3 linked regions of the Homo sapiens genome follow. The protein of the gene in region 2 interacts with the protein of the main gene of each other region in a biochemical or structural test. Each region holds a gene or a part of one and is shown on either strand. Other genes may lie near its edges. The genes, in order: GPR143, SUCLG2 and SUCLG1.

What was found.
Region 1: the proteins of SUCLG2 (region 2) and GPR143 form a complex in vitro, tested with the Homo sapiens proteins (one study listed by BioGRID).
Region 3: the proteins of SUCLG2 (region 2) and SUCLG1 are reported together in a solved structure, tested with the Homo sapiens proteins (one study listed by IntAct).

The regions. Positions count from the first base shown.
Region 1 is NC_000023.11:9,762,815-9,770,111, forward strand, and holds the start of GPR143 (G-protein coupled receptor 143), read right to left. Parts: upstream 3,034-7,297; 5' UTR 3,004-3,033; coding exon 2,754-3,003; intron 1-2,753. UniProt on the Homo sapiens protein: Receptor for tyrosine, L-DOPA and dopamine.
Region 2 is NC_000003.12:67,651,584-67,658,913, reverse strand, and holds the start of SUCLG2 (succinate--CoA ligase [GDP-forming] subunit beta, mitochondrial isoform 2 precursor), read left to right. Parts: upstream 1-4,301; 5' UTR 4,302-4,327; coding exon 4,328-4,411; intron 4,412-7,330. UniProt on the Homo sapiens protein: GTP-specific succinyl-CoA synthetase functions in the citric acid cycle (TCA), coupling the hydrolysis of succinyl-CoA to the synthesis of GTP and thus represents the only step of substrate-level phosphorylation in the TCA.
Region 3 is NC_000002.12:84,449,257-84,456,364, forward strand, and holds part of SUCLG1 (succinate--CoA ligase [ADP/GDP-forming] subunit alpha, mitochondrial precursor), read right to left. Parts: intron 497-7,108; coding exon 393-496; intron 1-392. UniProt on the Homo sapiens protein: Succinyl-CoA synthetase functions in the citric acid cycle (TCA), coupling the hydrolysis of succinyl-CoA to the synthesis of either ATP or GTP and thus represents the only step of substrate-level phosphorylation in the TCA.

The sequences.
Region 1 (7,297 bases), on a different chromosome or scaffold from region 2:
AGTAAGGGGTCCCGATCACCCAGCCTTTTCCTGACTTCTGCTTATTTGCTCGCAACCTCATCCACTTCCCTTCTAAAGGCTAAAGGATATGCAAGTATTATTCACTAACCCTCAAAAGATGTTTGGGTACACCTTACTTTTTTAGAGACAGGGTCTTGGCTGTCACCCAGGCTGGATCGTAGCTCACTCTAGCCTGGAATTCCTGGGCTCAAATGGTCCTCCTGCCTCAGCCTGGTGAGTAGCTGGGACCACATGTGCATCCCACCATGACGGGCCTTTTTTTTGTTGTTTTTTTTTTCTTGGGGGTAGAGCCTGGGTCTCGTTACGTTGCCCAGGCTAGTCTTGAACTCCTGGGTTCAAGCAATCCGTCCACCACAGCCTCCTGAGTAGTTAGGATTACAGGCGTGAGCCACCGCACCTTTAGGAGGCCGAAGTAGGAGGATCGCTTGAGCCTAGAAGTTTGACCAGCCTGGGCAAGATGGTGAGACTCCAGCTCTGAAAAAATAATGCAAAAATTAGCCAGTGTGGTGATGCATGCCTGTAGTTCCAGCTGCTCAGGAGGCTGAGGTAGGAGGATCCCTTGAGCCTAGAAGTTCGAGGCTGCAGTGAGCTATGATCATGCCAGCACACTCCAACCTGGGCAACAGAGTGAGACCCTGTCTCAAAAATAAAGTGATAATGATATTGGGGTTGCAAATGTTTAGAATTATTATGTTTTAGGGCTCTCTCTGAGATCTGAATGGGCAGGATGATGGAGCCTGAGATTGGCTTCACATTAATCCAGTGAGGAGGGTGAAGAGGGGAGCAGATGAGCCGGGTACCCGTACCTCACGAATCCCACGTACAGGGATTCACTGTAAGTGTTTCTATTATAGACTGCATTTACGCATGGTGGAAATGTTCCAAAAAGCTAAACAGAATGGCCAAATCTAGCTGAGAGGTCTGTATAAAGTGTCACATAATAGTTTAAAGCAGATGTTGGCAAACTCATTCTTAATATTTTTGGCTTTGGGAGCCATACTTTCTCAGTCCAATATTCACCCTGCCCTTGTAGGGTAAAGGCAGCCATGAATAATTCACAAATGCACATGAACAACATAGCTGCGTTCCCATCAAACTTTATTTGTAGACATTAACATTTAAATTTCAGTAATAGTCACATGCCAGGAAATATTTTTTAATTTTGATTTTTAAAAACATTTTAGGGCTGGGTGAGGTGGCTCACGCCTGTAATCCTAACACTTTACGATGCCAAGGGTGGTGATCTTTTAATTAAGCCCAGGAGTTGGAGACCAGCCTGGGCAACATAGTGAGACCCCACATATATTTACCCTAGCATGGTGGCGTGTGGCTGTAGTCCCAGCTACTCGGGTAGCTGAGGTGGGAGGATCGCTTGAACCCAGGAGGTCGAGGCTGCAGTGAGCTGTGATTGTGACACTGCACTCAACCTGGGCAAGAGGGTGAGACCCTGTCTCAAAAAACAAAATCATTAATTTTTTAAAAAGTAGGATGTAAAACCATTCTTAGCTCGTGGACCCTAGAAAACGGGCAGGATTTGGTCTGAGGGCTGCAGTTTGCGCACCTGTGGTGTAAAAACCATACCCAAAAAGCCTGGATAGGGAAGGGATTTCAGCTTACAAAATACTCGAGAGAATATATAGTGCACAATAGAAAAGAATTTACACACGCGCACACACACACACACACACACACACACACACACACACACAGAGCGAGACAGAGAGAAGTTAATTGTTAGTCTCTCCCTGGTGCAGTTGGGCAAAAATGAGGAAATCTTTTCTGGTCTGGGTTTTGCTTAACTGCGCCATCTGAAGTTTCCATATAACAAACACAATAAACGGATTTTTTAAAACCCAACGTCCCTTGGATGGGAATTTTACCGACCATGTGTTTGCAAAACTACCTAGTCGGCCGGGCGCGGTGGCTTACGCCTGTAATCCCAGCACTTTGGGAGGCCGAGGCGGGTGGATTACCTGAGGTCAGGAGTTCGAGAGCAGCCTGGCCAACATGGTGAAACTCCGTCTCTACTAAAAATACAAAAATTAGTCGGGCATGGTGGCGCGCGCCTCCCCCAGCTACTCGGGAGGCTGAGGCAAGAGAATCCCTTGAACCCGGGAGGTGGAGGTTGCAGTGAGCCGAGATTGCGCCACTGCACTTCAGTCTGGGCGACAGAGCAAGACTCCGTCTCAAAAAAAAAAAAAAAAATTACCTAGTTGTCCCATCCGGTCCCTAGGGAACAGCCTCCGCTTTCTCTTTTCTCTGTGGTTCAAGTGTTAAGACGGCCAGCCCAACCCGCTAGCCGTGCGCCATCACCCGGGCACCGATCAAGTTCCAACCCGAGTGGATCGAGTTCCAACCTGCGGGCCATGCGCCCTCACCCGGGCATCGATCCGGTCTCAACCTGCGGGCCACGCACTCTCACCCGGGGATTGAGCAGGTCCCAACCCCAGGGCCTCACGCCCTCACCCCAGCACTGAGCAGGTCCCAACCCGCGGGCCTCAAGCCCTCAGCCGGGGACCGAGCAGGTCCCAACCAGCCAGCTACGCGCCCTCAGCCCTGCACCGGGCAGGTTCCAACCCGCGGGCCTCTCGTCCTCACTCCATCACGGAACAGGTCCAAATCCACAGGCCGTGCGCCCTTATCCGGGCACCAGTCGGGTCTCAACCTGCGGGCCACGCGCCCTCACCCAGGCGCTGATCAGATTCCAACCCGCGGGCCGCGCGCGCCCTTACCCAGGCAGCCGAGAAGGTCGCAGGCAGCGGCAGCGCGCAGGATGCGGACCGAGGCCGGCGGGGACGTCGCGGGGGACCCGGGGCCCGCGGGCCGGCGGCCGGGCAGCAGCTGCAGAAGGCCCAGCGCCAAGCGGAGCCCGCCGCTGCCCAGGCAGAGCGCGTGGAAGGCCCGCGGCTGGAAGCTCAGCACGAGCTGCGTGGCTGCGTCCCGCGTGGGGCAGCAGAAGGTCCCTAGGCGCGGGGAGGCCATGGGCTGTGTTCGCGGACGCGGCTCGGGTGTGCCAGGACCCCGCCGGCCTGCCTGGGTCATGTGCTGGGCGGGCTGGGGGCGGCATCATGTGCCCTGGGCCTCTCCCCCACCCCAACCCCCAGCGCCTGCAGTAGAGCCAGGCTCGGTGGGGGCCGAGAGCACTGGGCTAACGCCACGAGGCCTCACGAGGTGATGCTTGGGCGGGCGGAGGAGGAGGACAGAGAGAGGGAGGGCTGAGAGGAGAGGAAGAGGGAGGAGGAGGAGGGAAGTGGAAGGAGAAGCAGAAAGGTTGGGAAGGTTACCTTTCTCCCCATTCACCAAGCCTTCCTGGTGGTTTCTCTGCCACCTAGAGCGCCAAACCTGCCATCTTTACTGGTCTTCTAGAGAAACAGGCCTCGTGGACTAGATCTTTCCTATTTGGGACTCTGACATCCTGATTTTGATGCCTTTAAGGCGCCAGAACATGTTCATAAACTGTGACTGATCCCTGTAACTGCTTTTTTCCTAAGTAGAGATGGTTGTCCAATTAGTGCTTTTTTTTATGGCCTCTCTCATTCATGGATATAATCCCACAGAGGCAGGATTTTCGTTTACAATTAATGAATGAAACAAACAGATCAATGTTAAAGAAAGAGCAGTAGCTCACACCTGTAATCCCAGCACCTTGGGAGGCCGAGGCAGGCAGATCGCTTGAGCTCAAGAGTTGGAGACCAGCGTGGGCAACATGGCGAAACCCCACCTCTATTAAAAATACAAACATTAGCCCGGTGTGGTGGCCCAGGCCTGTGATCCAAGCTACTCGGCAGGCTGAGGTGGGAGGATCGCTTGAGCCCAGGAGGTGGAGTTTGCAGTGAGCCAAGATAGTGCCACTGCACTCCAGCCTGAGCGATAGAGCCAGACCTTGTATCAAAAAACGAAACAAAACAAAAATTAGCTGGATGTGGTGGGGCGTGCTTGTAGCCCTAGCTTCTGGGGAGGCTGAGGTGGGAGGATCACTTGAGCCCGGCAAGTGGAGGTTGCAGTGAGCAGAGATTACACCACTGCACTCCAGCCTGAGCAATGGAGTGAGACCCTATCTCTCTCTCTCACACACACACACACACACACACACACACACACACACACACACAGAATTAAGTTTAAAATTTAAAAACATTAAAAAAATAAAGGGAAAAGTACTCAGCATAAGTACACACAGACACATTTTGCACCTTAACTTTCAGTTCTATTTATTTGGATTTTTCTTAACTGCGTTAATTTTTCTATGTTTTCTCATACATTGAAAATCTTGCTTTATTCTATACATGTAAGTTTCCAAGTAATATTGTGTTAATGATTACAGTAAGCATACTAAGATTTTTTTTTTTAAGTTCTTCAAGGCTGAAAATAGAAGTGCTCCTTCTAGATTATGGCCTTTATTTTAAAAAAAGAAAAGAAAAAAAAATCCAGCTCCATCATATTTATCATCTTCAACAAACCTCATTGGCTCTTTGTGACCACACAAGAGACACCCTTCCTCCTCTCTCCTGGTAAAATGGGCCCCTCTCTGGGTTTTTTTCAAGCAACCAAGGTGCAGGTGTCCCCATTGTGTTCATGGACTTTCCTCACTTGTTCTCCCCACCAGCTTTGCGGTTTTAAGGAAGGCATGATCTGTGCCGTCTTCCTCTAGGGATAGCAGGACTGGCCTTCCCTTGGGACCCCACAGAAGGCAGGCGGGAGGCTCCACTGCCAGACAGGAAGCGGAGCCTTATTTAACAACAATGAGGTGCAAACTCCACCACTTCAAAAGAGTCCAGATCTGGCACGTCTATAAACGCAGCCTGTTCACTCCACAGCTGCCTTCCTAGAAGTCAGAACAGACTGACATCTTCAGAAAGCTTAACAGCTCTGCTGGATTACACACTCCATTGTAAAAACAGTCAGAAGCACCATAGAACTACTCCCCAAGCATTAATGTTTAAAAGCTTGAATTCTAATATCTAATTTGGACAGTGGCTCTCTTTCCTTCTGCCTTGGTAAGCAGAGTTGCTTCTGGAGGTTAGTGTAATGGAAAGTGCTTTAAAAGATAAAAATGAAGAGTGTCTGTACATTTGCCTGAAGGTTGAGGGCCAGTGGGCCAGGCAAAGGGGTCCCTGCATTTGAGTCACTGTTTCATGCCCCAGAAAACACACTCCGCCTCTCTGCTTCCTACGTGATAACCTGGGAGTACTCTCCAGGGGGCTCTGGCTGACTCTGGTGCCCACTACTCAAGCTCAGTAGTCAGAATCTCATCAGTGAGAAAATGGATATGAATGCAGATTCCTAGGGCCATGGCACAGATGACAATGGTAAAGATGAGCCTCAGAGTAAAGGTGCAGAAGCATGAGTGTAAGACTAAATTTAAAACCCTGTCATCAAAGTGAGAGGGAACTAGAAATTGGTATGAGAGGCTGGGCCCAGTGGCTCACACCTGTAATCTCAGCACTTAAGGAGGCTGAGGCAGGAGGATTACTTGAGCCCAAGAGTTTGAGACCATCCTGGGCAACATAGTGAGAGCCCATCTCTAGCGTCTTCCTCTAGGAGCAGCATCTTTTGAAGTGGTGGAGTTTGCAGCTCATTGTTGTTAAATAAGGCTCTGCTTCCTGTCTGGCAGTGGAGCCTCCTGCCTGCCTTCTGTGGGGTCCCAAGGGAAGGCCAGTCCTGCTGTCCCTAGAGGAAGACGACACATCTCAAATTAGCAGAGCGTGCTGCTGCGCACCTGTAGTTGCAGCTACTGGGGAGGATGAGGTGGGAGGATCACTTGAGCCCAGGAGTTTGAGGTTGCAGTGAGCTGTGATTGCACCACCAAACTCCAGCTTGGGTGAACTGAGATGACAAACTTTTTTTTTTTTTTTCCTTTGAGACAGAGTCTTGCTCCATTGCCCAGGCTGGAGTGCAGTGGCGTGATCTCAGCTCACTGCAATCTCTGCCTCCTGGGTTCAAGTGATTCTCATGCCTCAGCCTCCTGAGCAGCTGGGACCACAGGCACATGCCATCACACTCAGCTAATTTTTTGTCTTTTTAGTAGAGATAGGTTTCGTCATGTTGGCCAGGCTGGTCTTGAACTCCTGGCCTCAAGTGATCCACCCGCTTTGGCCTCTCAAAGTGCTGGGATTACAGGCATGAGCCATCATGCCTGGCCTGACAAAACTTTTCATGAAACAGTACAACTACAAATCTGAGAAAAGTGAAGCAAATACACACGCACACACTTGGGAGGCAGAAACATCTGGAAGTTTCGTAGATATGGGAGATACAGGGATGGCGGTGCTGAATATGAACTTTGAGGTATGTGTGCAGAAACAATCGGTCTTTGAGTACATGAAGGTACATCTGTTTTTGCATGAACCCTTCCTCCGTTTTTCCCTCCTTCCCAGTTTAGCACCTGAATTCGCTCTCCATTTTCACAGTTTGGGCTGCCTGGGGCATCTGTTCCCTGGAAATGCTCCATCATCTTGGCTTTCTCTCATTCCACAATCCACCATTTACCCACCATTCCCACTTGATCAGATGCACTTGATCAACTGCTGGAAGACGGTTCCTGAGTTTCTCTCCCAGGCAGTTTATTTTTCATGGTGAGTCCCCTGACATCGAGATGTCTCAACCAAAAGAATGGGGTTTATGGTGAGACTCAGATATCCCTTAGAATCCAGTAGAGGAGGTGGCTAGGGGCAGATGGATGGCAGAAACAGCCTAAGTAAGGAGACTGCCATTCACAATAATTTGAATTTAAATAATAAATAAGATTTGTTTATTTATTTATTGACATGGAGTCTCACTATATCATCCAGGCTGGAGTGCAGTGGTGCGATCTCAGCTCACTGCAACCTCTGCCTCCCGGGTTCAAGTGATTCTCCTGCCTCAGGCTCCCAAGTAGCTGGGATTACAGGCGCCTGCCACCACACCTGGCTATTTTTTGTATTTAGAGTACAGACGGCGTTTTGCCAAGTTGTCCAGGCTGGTCTCGAACTCCTGACCTCAGGTGATCCGCCCGCCTCAGCCTCCCAAAGTGCGGGGATTGCAGGCGTGAGTCACTGCGCCCAGCCTAATAAATAAGATTTAAATAATAAAATAATTTATGGAGTGTAGGCAGGCACTATGCTTTGAATATTACATTCATTATCTCATTTAATATTCAGAATGAGCCTTCCAAGTGGGTTTTACTGATACTTAAATTGATATAGACAAAACATGGCCAGGTGCAGTGGCTTATGTCTGTAATCCCAGTACTTTGGGAGGCCAAGGTGGGAGCATTGTTTGAGCCCAGGAGTTCAAG
Region 2 (7,330 bases):
CTACCCTATGAACCAGGTATTTTCCTAGTCACAGGTGTTCAAGGGGGTGGAGGTCAGATTTGAATCCAATCCAGTTTGGCTGAAAACTTAATGCTTGTTCCAGGAAAGCACAGTGCAGAACTCTGGTAGAATCTAGATTCCCTGTTCTCAAAGAGATTCCTATTTGGGGGAGGTTGGAGGGTGGAAGCGGGGAGTATGAAATAGGGAGAAATCTTACGAGGAACTCTATAATGCAATTCATTCCACATATGTTTATTGATTACTTTTTCTAATCAAAGTCCAGTGCTAGACACTGGAGGTGCTACATAAATGGTTCTCTTTCTTCCTTCTGTCCCTTCTCCCCTACCACCTTCCTGCAGAGAAGGCAGAATGAGATAATACGAGTAAAGACACTGAGGAATTGCTGATGAAAGATTTGGACCCCAGAACCAAGGATGAGACAGTCTTCCAATTCAGACAGGAAAACTCTTAGGAGGCTGCTAACCCTGGAAAGACCCCAAGTTACGCACCAGTAGATAGTAAACAAATCAAAGAATACCAAATGTACTTGGATGACAATCAGAAAGCCTCTCCCGACTCCACTTTCAAAAATCCCCCCATAATAGAATAATCGCATCTTAAAAGAACACTCATCAATCAAAGACAGTCTTAAGAGTCTCTCCTTTATCTCTATAAAACTAACACTTCTTTCAAACGACTTCTAGTCTCATTTGGAAGGAAAGTGATAGTAGCCAACTCCCTTAGCATAGTAACGTCTGAATAAACAGCCTTTGATTAATTCTATAGGTGGTCTTCCTCCTTTTGGCAAAATGTTCACAAGCTCTCACCAAGTTTAAACGTTCACTCTCAAACATTAGCAAGTCTTTGCTCTATCCCGGCGGACCCAGTAGGGGTAATGATGAACAATATGGAAACTCAAATCCAGTTTTGTCAAGAGGAGGGTGCTAAGAGTGATTGGAGTCCAGCTTTGGGAAATTTGATCCCAAGCTGTGTCACCCTTGGCAAGTTACTTGACCTTAGAGTCATGTAAATGTCATGTGGAACTCTGTGGCCAAGTTTCTCTCTGGCAAAATGGGAATAATAGTAGGACCCCATTTGCAGGGCTCCTGTGAAGATTAAATGACTGAAAACAGAGGCAGCAGAGTGTATGTATCAGGAAAGAGCATCGGTTTGCCATTTAATAAAAAAGAATCCATGAGTCCACAGTGATACAAGTGAATAAAACAATTCACCGACGAATAGTGTTACAGTGAACTAAATATGGCCTAAGGAGGACTCGGTACTTCTATATTTGAGTCCTTGTGGACGAACTGCAACCTAGCTTAATAGGTAGACAAGATTGAAAACCTAACTTAGAAGTATGGACCTAAAACAACAGCTAAGTCTTGGCAATCCCAGTGGCCATATTTTAACCATTTATACATTGCTGAGTGTTCAAACTGTGTAAGGCAAATGCCAAGCTGTAACCAATCCAGCTGTTCTGTACCTCACTTCTGATTTCTGTAAGTCATTTCCCTTTTTTCCTCTATAAATCTTCTTCCACCACGTGGCTGCGCTGGAGTCTCTGTGAATCCACTGTGATTCTGGGAGCTGCCCGATTGGCGAACCGTTCATTGCTCAATTAAACTCCTTTACATTTAATTTAGCTGAAGTTTTTCTTTCATCAATGGAGATGATGGAAAGAGTGCAGTTTTTCTGAGTAGAATACAGACTAATAAATGTAGGATGGAGTTAGACCTTGCCACTTTGCCACCATCGTGACAATAATTGATTTAAACAATCATCATCATCCTTATCATCAAAAGATGCTACATCTAGTGGGTAAAACTATGTCTCGAAATGGGCTAGAAATTATATTAAAATAAAAATCCTCAGCTCCCCCACTTTCCAAAGAGAGAGATTAGGAAAGAAGCTAGTAGCAACAGCTGTCTACTTATGTCACATTGTACCTTTTTTCATGATCATATGCTCAAGAATGAGTAAGGTTAAAAAAAAAAATCTAAAATAGTGCTTAATTTGGGGGTGGGTGGAAGGGATGTGAATCTCATCTCTTATCAGACCTGCCACCTCTGGCAAGTTACTTAACCTCTGTGCACCTCAGTTTTCTCTTCTGCAAAATGGGGATTGTACACTTCTACTCATTTAAAACTTTGCTATGAAGACTAAACAAGTTTATATTTGTCTAATGCTTGGCACACATTCAGTAACTTTGCTGTTGTTTTTATTATATGCACATTGCTTAGACTCGCGTAAACTCTGTGAAAGGGAAATAATCTTGGGACTCCCAAATCACTAAGGTAAAGGGAAAAGTTAAGGTGGGAACTGCTTAGGGCAAACCTGCCTCCCATTCTATTCAAAGTCATCCCTCTGCTCACAGAGATAGACGCACAGCTGATTGCTTCCTTTGGAAAGGCCAATCAGAAACCCAAAAGAATGCAACCCTTTGTGTCTTATCTACCCATAACCTAGAAGCCCCTCCTTGCTTCCAGTTGTCTCGCTTTTCTGGACCAAACCAATGTACATTTTACATATATTGATGTCTCATATCTCCCTAAAATGTATAAAACCAAGCTGTGTCCTCCACCACACCTTGGGCACATGTCAGGACCTCCTGAGGCTGTGTCACAGGCACGTGTCCTTAACTGTGGCCAAATAAACTTCTTAAATTGATTGAGACCTGTGTCAGGTATTTGGGGTTCACAGCTCCAAATGAATGTTGCTTTTATCACTCTGATTACTGGGCTTAAAATCCTCCAATAGCTTTGTGTCCGGAATTGGTTCCTTCCCGTGGGTTCTTAATCGTCTCGCTGACTTCCAGAATGAAACTGCAGACCCTCGCGGTAAAGATGGCGTGACCAGAATTTGTTCCTGCAGATGTTCAAATGTATCTGGGGTTTCTTCCTTCCGGTGGGTTCGTGGTCTCGCTGACTTCAGGAGTGAAGCCGCAGACTTCACAGTGAGTGTTACAGCTCTTAAAGGTGGCCCGTCCGGAGTTGTTTGTTCCTGCCTGTGGGTTCGTGGTCTCGCTGACTTCACGAATGAAGCTGCAGACCTTTGCAGTGAGTGTTACAGCCCTCGAAGGTGGGGCATACGGAGTTGTTCATTCCTCCCAGTGGGTTCGCAGTCTCCCTGACCTCAGGAGTGAAACTGCAAACCTTTGTGGTGAGTGTTATAGCTCATAAGGATAGTGCGGACCCAAACAGTGAACAGCAGCAAGAGCTACTGCAAAAAGCAAAAGCACAAAGCAACCACAACCTGGAAGGAGACCCCAACTAGGGGCCACTACTGGCGCCGGTGTCCAGCTTTTATTCCCTTATTTGGCCCCACCCTCATCCTGCTGATTGGTCCATTTTACAGAGTGCCAATTGGTCCATTTTACAGAGTGCTGATTGGTCCCTTTTTAAAGAGTGCTGATTGGTGCATTTACAAACGTTTAGCTAGACACAGAGCGCTGATTGGTGCGTTTTTACAGAGTGCCGATTGGTGTGTTTACAAACCTTTAGCCAGACACAGAGCACTGATTGGTGCATTTACAATCCTTTAGCTAACAGAAAAGTTCTCCAAGTCCCCACCTGATTAGCTAGACACAGAGGGCTGGCTGGTGTATTTACAAACCTTTAGCTAGACACAGAGCGCTGATTGGTGCATTTACAATCATTTAGCTAGACAGAGAAGTTCTCCAAGTCCCCAACCGACCCACCCGGCTTCATCTCTCAGCTTTACATTGATTTTAGGTTAAGGATAGAACAAAACAAAACACCCACAACTCCTTAAGGGATGGAGAGCCTCCAATGGCCTCTCCTTGACTCACCTGAAGCCCTGGGCTGCAGGAACCTCACCTGTCTCTATTCGTTAAAGTCTCAGCTCAAACACCACTGTCCCAGATAGGCCTCGTGACCGCAGGACTAGACCACGGTTCTCTGCGGAGGGCGTCAGCTCCGTGAGCCACCCTTCCAGCACCCACTGCCATGGCGAATATTTGCTTGTTTGGCCATCCAGGGACTGTTTGAGCCCCAAGACCGCAGGGCTCGGGGTCTGTCTTTGCTCAGGACGATAACCTGGGGACTGGACAGTAGGCCCTCAGGCCTTGGGACCGCTCAAAGTGAACCGGGGCCGGGTGGGGGACCCAGGGCTCTGCAGCCTTAAGAACGCCTGTGCCCCCGGGACGCAGGGGTCAGGCCCGGCCCGGCCCAGACCGCCTCTGCCTCCTCCTCCTTTTCCTCCCCGCGCCCGCTTCTCCTCTGACCCCTCCTCCCGCTGCTCCTCCTCCGCCTCCTTCCCCTGCCCGCGCCCGCCCTACTGCCCCGTGCCGAGTTTCCTGTTTAAGATGGCGTCCCCCGTAGCAGCGCAGGCCGGGAAGCTTCTGCGAGCCCTAGCGCTGCGGCCCCGCTTCCTGGCGGCCGGGTCCCAGGTGAGCGTGGGGGCAGGAGCTGCGGGCGCCAGCAGCGGCGCCGGCCTGCCCGGGCTTCCCTCGCCCCCTGCTACTCTTGGTCTCCGCCTGACCCCCTGCGCGGCCCCTCGGGCGCCCCACTTCGGGAGGTGACGCGGCGCCGGGTCCAGGCGCAGCAGGGAACCCCGCTCCAGTGTGGGGCAGGGGCGGCGCGGCGGCAGCCCCGGGTGCCTCGGGGTATGAGCGACCCAACGCACTAGAGTCTCCGCTGTCTGCCCGCGCAGACTCATGGCGAAGGCGCTGAAGCAGGCGCTGGACGCAAGTTTAAGAAAAGTTTCTTGGACCGGGTTTTGGAGCCCTGAGGTTTTATTGTCAGCTCTACTAATTCTGCTTTTCAAACTTCTGGCACTAACCCTGAGCACGTTTAGACCACGTGATAAACATGCCTGGAAACCCGTTTCAGCCCAACTAGGAACTCACCCCCTAGGGTGAACTTCCTGCAGGCTACCTGCTTTTGCAGACTTTTAATGTGCCTGAGTTGGTCAAATCCGTGGGTCAAGGAGAAAAATGGGAAACGATCTTTCTCCTCTTTCCAATGAAAAATCAGGGCTGTCACTAAAACGCATTAGACCATTGACCCTGTCCATGTCCTCCTTGTTGATGGAGAATGAAATCAAAGAGGGTCAGTGGTGGGCTGGATAGCGATTGGAACTTGGCCTCTAGCAGATTTTTACCTTCTGCAGATGGCAAGCGTTAAAATAGTCAGAAGGACTTCAGGAAAGTTTTGAGTTGGTGATGACTCTTGTAGAAATCACTCAACCACTGAACTGGTTAGTCTCCGTAGACTATCTCTCTTCCCTTTTAAAGAAAGCACAGTCTGGGATTCAGCCACAGCAGAGTTAATGACCTTGCCTATTTCCCCATTTTTAATTGATGAGAGGCAAATTATCACTCATACAATTTTAACCAGGATGTGCATAGTATAGTTTTTTAGAAAATTTAAAAAATAGTGATTAATGATTTTTTGAGTTCCTCTAAACTTTGGTTATGACATCTGTGAGCTATTTTTACCCCTCTCCTTTCATTTCCTGCCTCCCCATTTCTCTGTTATTGTTAATGTAAATTTAAAAGGTGCTAATACTTACTACTGTAATATTCTTAATAGGTGCTTGACAGTATAGTGAGGTAGCAAAAGGAATGGCAGTTTTGTCTAATTAAAACTCACTAATAACTGTTGTAATAGAGTAAGGAGAATAGCTCTAGGAGATGAAGTCCTATTCATTATTTAAGTGTTAGAAAAAACAAGAACTAGGGTGCTTACCATGAGTGTAGACTTGAATTGATGAGAAACATGGGGCCCAGGGCAGTGAAAACTCATGAATTGTACAGAGAAACTGAAAATGCAGAGTGTTTAGCTGAAATATGTGAAGCCTACTTCCCTAACCAAGAAATAAGAGGCTGAACGCAACACAGGAGAAAATCTGGTTGGGGAGAGATACTCTTGGTTTGTCAAGAAAACTGGGTAAAAAGATCTGTTAGCACGCCCCATCTGGTTACTGTGATTTACATATTTGTGGATGATGTGTTTTTCTGTAAATTCTTAGAAGGTAAAAGTAGGTTTTTTTAAAGATAGAAAGGTACACAGTGTCCAAGAACTGGAAATGGACATTAGCAATCATTTAGTCCAGCCAGCTCATTTCATGGGTAGAGAAATTGAGGCCTAAAGAAGTTCAATGACATATTCAACGATACAGTGAGAGTTTGTGGCATTCCAGAGTAAAGGCTTACCTTTACGTTTCCGTTACACCATGCTGTTTCCTGGTGAGTATATACTTCCTCATGAAAATATATTATATCAACATGCAAATTAATCTGCATGCCAGTAGTAACTATATAACATCCAAGTCATTAGCACCACTGACACATTTTTATTTTTTTCTTTATGACCATCTTAGAATTGTCCATAAAAATGGTGAGTATTGCTATTTTCAAATTCTTGGGTGCTTCCTATGATCTGTTTCATGTACACTGATTTGATATTACGTTTCCATAGTCCCTTGCCCGTGGCAGACATTGCAGTTAAACATGGCCCACTTCTCTCATCATACTTAAGAATCCTCACCAAGTGTCTCAGAAATCTGTTGCCACTCTTGGCCCAGACCTATTTTATACCACCAGGCCTTGTGAAAAACTGTTGTCTGTACAGAAATAAAAGACCCAGTTTCTGCTTAGAGAAATAACTTTAACTGGTCTCTCAAAGATACCCATAGAATGACATTTTGTCTACCTCCTCCCTATGGTTAAATTTAACATTTGACACATATTCCTGATGCTTAGTGTCATTGAAGTTTTTTTTTTTTTTTCACCTTTGCTGTTAGCTTTACTGTTTTGACTTTTGATTGATAGTACGTCCTTAAAGGGTCCACTTTAGTCATTTCTTATTTTTCATATAGTTTTTATTCAGCCCATACCATTTGGCAGGACTGTTGTAGGCCCTGGGGTTTGGGGATGGTGAATGAGGCAGGCAGAGTCTTTGGCCACGTGATACTTTATTTTAATGGAGGTGGGAGAGAGTGAGCCAGTACACATATAACCAATAATGAAAATGATTTCAGCCAATGACAGATTCTGTGAAGAAAATCAGTCAGGGTCATGGGATGGAGAATGGATTGCTTCACAGCAGGGTAGTTTAGACTGGATGATCAGAGGAGACCTATTTGATATGGTGTGTTTTTGATTGGCATAATTTTTTAAACTGAAATATAAGACATACTGAAAAATGAACAATTACAAATGAACAACTTGATGAATTTTCATAAACTGAATGCAAACCCAGCTAACTAGGTACAGATGAAGAAAACGATCATTTAACAACAACCCAGAGGCCCCCTGGTGCTCCTGCCTGTCACTACCTCCACCCTACAAAGGGTCACCAGTCCC
Region 3 (7,108 bases), on a different chromosome or scaffold from region 2:
GTGTTTAACAATACGGTTTTTTGTCTGTTTGTACAAAACCTAAACACAAGAATCTAGTTGACCTAGTGCTTAGTCAAAGAAACGGTGATCTCTTTCAACACTGGAGGAAAATCATTAGTGTTGTATTTGCTGAAAGAAAGTGTATGGGCCTCCAAAACAATATACTCCTAGTAAGCATACAATATACTCCTTTGCAAGGTAAGTTTAAACACAATTTTTATGTTATAGGCTGACAATAGCAACTAACCTCCTCCTGAGATACAACCCCATTGCTGTACAGTATATTTTTCTGCAACAATCATGTGTTATTTTTGAGATATTAAAAATAAAAAAATAGTTAATTTGTTATATCTCTAGTCTACATTTGAAAATAAAAATCTAGATATACATACCTGTTTGCCAGTGAAACCCTGGCAAATAATCTTTGTATTTTTATCAACATAGAGATGTTGCCGAGAAGCTGTGTAGGAACAATGCCGAATTCCATTCTGCGGCACTAAGAGGTTAAAAAAAAAAAAAAAAAAAAAAAAAGACACATTATAATTTTTCTAAACTTTTGAACAATAATTCAACTTGATCACAAAAAAAAAATTCTTTAATGCACGCGCTATCCTGTGATCACGGCAAACCTAAATGCCACCTTTTAAATAAGACACAGTGACCACAGAAATAAGAAAAACAGACAAGACATTGTTCCATTCTCCAGGATCCTCTCTTTATCAAGAACCACGATCTTGTAGTTTTTTCCTGAACTGAGGGAAAAAAAAGCAATGTTTATCATTTTTATTTCCTAGAAAAAAACTGGGGCTCAAAGATAAATGGTTAAAATTAAATCCAGGGACTGAAAACAAAATGTCACCCCTATTAACAATGTTTACTAAACAGCCACGTTTCCCCACTTGACCCAAATTTTTAAAGCCTAATACCTTTAAATAGGTAAGCTAAGAGGCAAACTTTGTCAGGAATACAAGTAAAAATCACTCAGCAACTCATTCTCTAGTAAGAACAACATATTAAATGTTAAGTCATAGGATAAAACTTATCTAAAATATAATACAAAATCACTTAATCTCTTCTGATATGAACTCATGTATAAAAGACACAGGGAAAATAAAACAAATAGGAAAGTAGACAAGACAGGAAAAAGCTTGTTAGGAAAAAAAAAAAAAAAAAACCCTAGGTTATTGCAGCAACCTACCTAAAAGAGAAATTGAGAAATCTAAATAGTTACTACAACCAGCTCCCCACATTTCAAAACACAGTAGGAGGAACATAGATGACTTAAAATTTTGGGCTACCTTCTAAATGTCCATTAATACTAACAACCTGACTTCTCTGTGGCCCATCCCTGGCCCTTTCAAAGTAGCCAGGCCTTCTACCTATCATTGTGGTAGCCCATGAAGCTAGCCCAAGAAAAGAACATAAGGAGTAATCTCTATTGAACAACAAAAAAAGAACACCTGTCACATATTTGCCCAGAGTCCACTCCATGCTTTCTGCCTTAAATCACTGCCTCATACCCACCTAAGTCCTGACCTCACATTACATAACTGAAAGAGCAACAACATCTGCTTCTGGAGGAAGTATATGGAATCCCTTACACCTCTAGGGAGAAGACAGGCCCAGATTTAGCCCTTACCACCTGGATAATATTTGGTACACACAAAGAACTGCTACGTAACAGGCAGCTTTCTCATACTAGACTGTGCTCAACAAGGGGCCATGGGCTTTGCAGGTCAAGTTCTGGCACATCAGTCACAGCTAAGCATCTGACTCTAGGCCAGTGGACACAGCAGGGATTTATGGCCTGAGACCCTGTCCCTACTGAGCTGTGCAGCACAGCCCACCCTTGCCAGTGCTGCATTCGAGACCCATTCTTGCCCTTGGCTTCCACTTCTCCCAGCTGAACACCTACAACCATGGTATTTGTGTAGAAGCTACACCCTTTCCTACCCTGCTACAATTTCTGACTAGTGGAATTGGCTTTACCAGTCCCTCCCATTGCATCTTCAACAAATGCTCATATCATATCATATCATATCATACCATATGTTTTCAGACCAGAAGGTAGAAGATTTGATTATAAGATCAGATGTTATGATCAGGATATCTGGAGTCCCTACTTGTTAACATAAAATACTTTTTGTAGGTAAAGTTTGGTTCTGCACAAGTACTCTTATACTCACTAACTTAACAAAGATCAGACAATTCACTTCTCCTTCCACAGGAGCAGAAGTCACCCTGAGAAAAGGCAGGTCTGTCTGTGTCCCTAAAGCACAGCTCCAATAACAGACCAACGAAGATCTCTGCTTTCTCGTAGTAACTCCAGATCTCCTGGATCAATTCTATGGAGCTCAAGATTTTACAACATCAGATCTTTGGTGCTCATAAAAAGTGTATCAGAAGTGTGATAAACAGCAGCTTACCTCCCAATCCCCTAGCCTTTTAGTGTTACTCAGCCTGTGCAATGCCCCTGAGAGCCTGCAGCATCTAATTAACTAAATCTTGGGAAACCTCTAATGCACAGGTGTAGATGTGTGTGCGCTCATGCATGTGTGATCTCCCCATCTACACACCAGGCCTGGGCTCATACAGACCCACTTCTAGATAAGCTGGAACTAACAGACTATTATCGTCTTACAGGCAAATCCAAGAAATGTATTCAATGGCAAGGAAGTGAAATTCCTGATCACATTCCATCCTGACAATAAACCTGTATGATGCCAGACAAGGTTATCATCTGGTACTGAAATGTGAGTTCGTTCATTGATTCAATCAACATTTGAGGAGCACCCATACCAAGCCATAATGTCAGGTGTCAAGGATAAAGTGATGAATGACAGTGTCTCAGCCCTCAAATAATTCACAATCTATCTGAACTCATATAAAAGTGGGCCATAACTGCGTGGTGTGTGAAGTACTATAATAAAAAAAAAAAAAAGCCTTGGGCATTTGGGGTGGATAAACTCCCCACACCTATTCAAGGTAGAGAAGTCTATGAATGTGTAAGAGGTGGGGAGGGTGACAAAGCCACCAAATTACTACAGTAAGTGACTTCCTAAAGTGAAATTTAGAACACAAGGCATACATTGGTGGCCAAACCATCTTGCAAATATCTCTTACCTTTCAATTAAAGATTTAATGTCCTCAACTTTCTGAGAATTTCACTTACATTGATCCATATAAATTAACATTTAAATAAAACATTACACAGTCAAGAATTCCTATATCTTCACACGATATACATGATTTATGAGTATACTGGGGGACTTTAAAAGGGATCTGAGATTAAGAAGAATAGAAGCTACAAACGCTTTCATGTGGGTATACAATAAACACCATCACACACTACATTACTGAGTGCACACATATTCTTACTCTTTTCATCATGTTATTTTTAAGTGAAATTATCTAAGCTTAAATTTATTTCAAGACTATTTCAAGTACCATCTAAATACTTTTCCCACTGCTAACTGTAAACTCCATGAGTGTCAGGACCATGTCTTACTCATCTTGTCTCCTATGGTATATGGTCAGTGCCTTACACACAGTAGGTCTATGGGAAACATTTCACTGAATTCCAGGACAAGAAACAGGGTCTCCAAAAGAAACACTTCTACCAAGCTAAACACCATAAGGTTCGTCTCTTTTTCGGTGAGTTGGAAAAAGTCAATCTTGAACTCCCACGTATCAGCAAAGAGGGAAAAGAACCCTATATCTATTTTTGTACATATAAAGATCATAGGTTTCCCTAAAATTCATATAGAGACTGCATGGAAGTTCGGCCCTAAAATGCTTCTGGCGGTCCCCAAAGCTACATTAATCTAGTACAAACGCCATGCTGACATTTTTTTAAATAAATAAAACCCAAAAGCAATAATACAAATTGAATCTTTACCTACATGAAAAAAGCAAGCATTCAGACAGAGTGAAACACACCATAGGCAGAGTTAAAGGCAATGACAGACCAGGGGAGTGTTTTCCTAACATTTAACAGACAAGGAATTAACGTGAGCAACATGAAGAGCCAACAAAAAGTGGAGCCCAAAGCCTAAGAGAAAAACTGATAAAGGCCATGAACAAGAAACACAATGGATGACAAACTGCAAATCCATATATGATGAGATGCCTAGCTTTACTAATAAGAAGAAAATAAGTATTATTATTATTTTTTTTGAGACGTTGTTTTACTCTGCAGCCCAGGCTGGAGTGCAGTGGCACGATCCCGGCTCACTGCAACCTCCACCTCTCGGGTTCAAGCAATTCTCCTGCCTCAGCCTCCTGAGTATCTGGGACTATAGGCCCACATCACTACACCCAGCTAATTTTTTTGTACTTTTAGTAGAGACGGGGTTTCACCATGTTGGCCAGGCTGGTCTCAAACTCCTGACCTCAAGTGATCCGCCTGCCTTGGCCTCCCAAAGTGCTGGGATTACAGGCAGGAGCCACCATGCCCAGCCGAAAATAAGTATTTTAAATTAAATATTAGAGCAGGAAAGGTGAGGTTGGCCACCAGGAAAAATTTCTGATGGCGAATGCTGTAGTTGCCACATCCTAGGCCACCTCCTTCTTTCCAGATTCTTAGAAATTGTCCAGCTTAACCTTGGGACTGCGTCCCAGGAGCAGCTGAGAACATCATCGCAGGAATCAGACAGGCCTGGTCTTGAGTTTATGCTCTGCCTTCCAGCAGCCATGTAACCCAGAGCATACCTTTTGATCTCCCTTAGCCTTAGTCTTCCCATCTAGAAGTGGAATAACAGCTGCCCCTGGGAGGCTGTGATATTAATATGAAATTACTCCTTAAATTGGCACCAGGTAGCACAGTCTCTGGTACACTCCCAAAACTGGGTTTACAACCCTACATGAACACAAAGGCAAATCTATCCCTAAAAAGAGAGAAAAAATAGTTCATATTTTAAAATCAAATAAGTCTAGCCAAAAATGTTTTCTACATGTCCTTGTGTACATCTTATATGTTTATTTATAAACATACTAATCCATGTCTGCATATAATGTGCAGTATGCACAAATATACCTCTAAGTTTTTAACATATAATACATTTGTAAAGGCGCAGCCCTCACTGTAAAACACGGACAATAATAGTATCTCCTTCATAGGCTGATGTGAGAATTAAATGAGTTAGTAATATATAAAGCATTTAAAACAGATACAGCAAGTGTTATATCCCTAAGAGCTTTTTATTAGCGTTATTATTACCGATGCAGAATGAGCAGACCAAACTGCTTTGAGATGTTGACTGTGACAGGCTATCTGTCAGGTGCTAGGGATTCACAGGTGAACAAGACAGGCTCAGGCCCTACCCACATGAAGTTTCCTGCCCTGTAAAAGAGCTAAACATTGCACAAAAAAAAACAAAACTACCAACAGTACAAACTGTAATAAAGACAATGAAGGAAAGAGGCTGAGTAATCTGAGAGAGATGTGTTTTCAACAGGGGTGATAGATTTGTACCTGTCAGCCACATACTGGTCCTCTTTACCACAGATAGTAACACATCATTTATAAAATGGCTGGTGGGATGAATGATGCAATCTATGGTCAAAGAGCACCTGCCCAGGAGAGACTCAAACCATGGGCCTTGTATGACCAGTACCATGCTCCTAACCAATAACCCAAGGCTCTATTCATGAAATACTCAATACTCCTTCAACTCACCTCTCAAACTGTGTCCCTGGTAAACATTTATTCGTGCACGTACTCATGAATTTAACAAATGTACACTTATTAACCATATGTATTATGCATATGTAAGACACAGGCTACTGCAGTCTACACCTACAGGACCTTATAATACAGCAGAGTAGCTAGCAGCCACTTACCCCTAAACTCCAAACAACCCACTATTCAAATGTTAAATTATATATTCATTTAATATTGACTTACGAGTGAAGTTTAATAAGCTGTAAGTACCATATTTCATCAAATATAAAACACCATTGATTTTTAAGAAGTACTATTAATTACTGGTAAAAAAGAAAAAATGAGGCGGGCGGATCACCTGAGGTCAGGAGTTTGAGACCAGCCTGACCAACATGGAGAAACCCCGTCTCTACTAAAAATACAAAATTAGCCGGACATGGTGGCACATGCCTGTAATCCCAGCTAGTCGGGAGGCTGAGGCAGGAGAATGGCTTGAGCCCAGGAGGCAGAGGATGCGGTGAGCTGAGATTGTGCCATTGCACTCCAGCCTGAGCAATAAGAGCAAAACTCTGTCTCAAAAAAAACATATATATCAGTAATAAGACACAACCTAATGTAAGAAATGTTATAATGTAAAAAAATGTGGGTCTATCACGCCTGTAATCCCAGCACTTTGGGAGGCTGAGGTGGGCGGATCACAATGTCAGGAGATCGAGACCATCCTGGCTAACACAGTGAAACCCCATCTCTACTAAAAATACAAAAAAATTAGCCAGGTGTGGTGGCGGGTGCCTGTAGTCCCAGCTACTGGGGAGGCTGAGGCAGGAGAACGGCTTGAACCTGGGAGGCGGAGCTTGCAGTGAGCAGAGATCACGCCACTGCACTCCAGCCTGGGCGACAGAGCAAGACTCCGTCTCAAAACAAAAAAAAAAAAAAAAAATGTGGGTCTATGGTATGCCAGTCCCCTGATGAAATGAAATTGTTGCCCTGTACTTAAATTATTTTTAATATTCCCAATTACATTTCTATGGAGAAACAAATTTGATGTCAGAAAATCAAATCACTTTCTCATGGCTACACTGGTACATCTGAATCAAGGCTATTTTGTATTTCTGAAATAAAGATTTGGTTATTACATGCAATGGCAACAGATGCTAATATCCACAACATCACTGTTGAGGATCTCATTTTCCAAACTACACTTTAAATGCATCTCTGATTCGAAAAACAGGCCTACGCACTTGGCAAACACGGGGAAAAGGAAGGCAACACCTTTGAGCAGGATAGTCACCTTCTCAACACATCACTAAGACTGCCAAAAAAAAATCAGAGCTTCGAAAAAAGCTTAAGTTATCACATGGTACATGCTGGCGGAAAGGATACTGCAGAGTCAGAAGACCTGGGTGCTAGTATCACTTCTGATACTCACTGGAAACTTTTGGGATT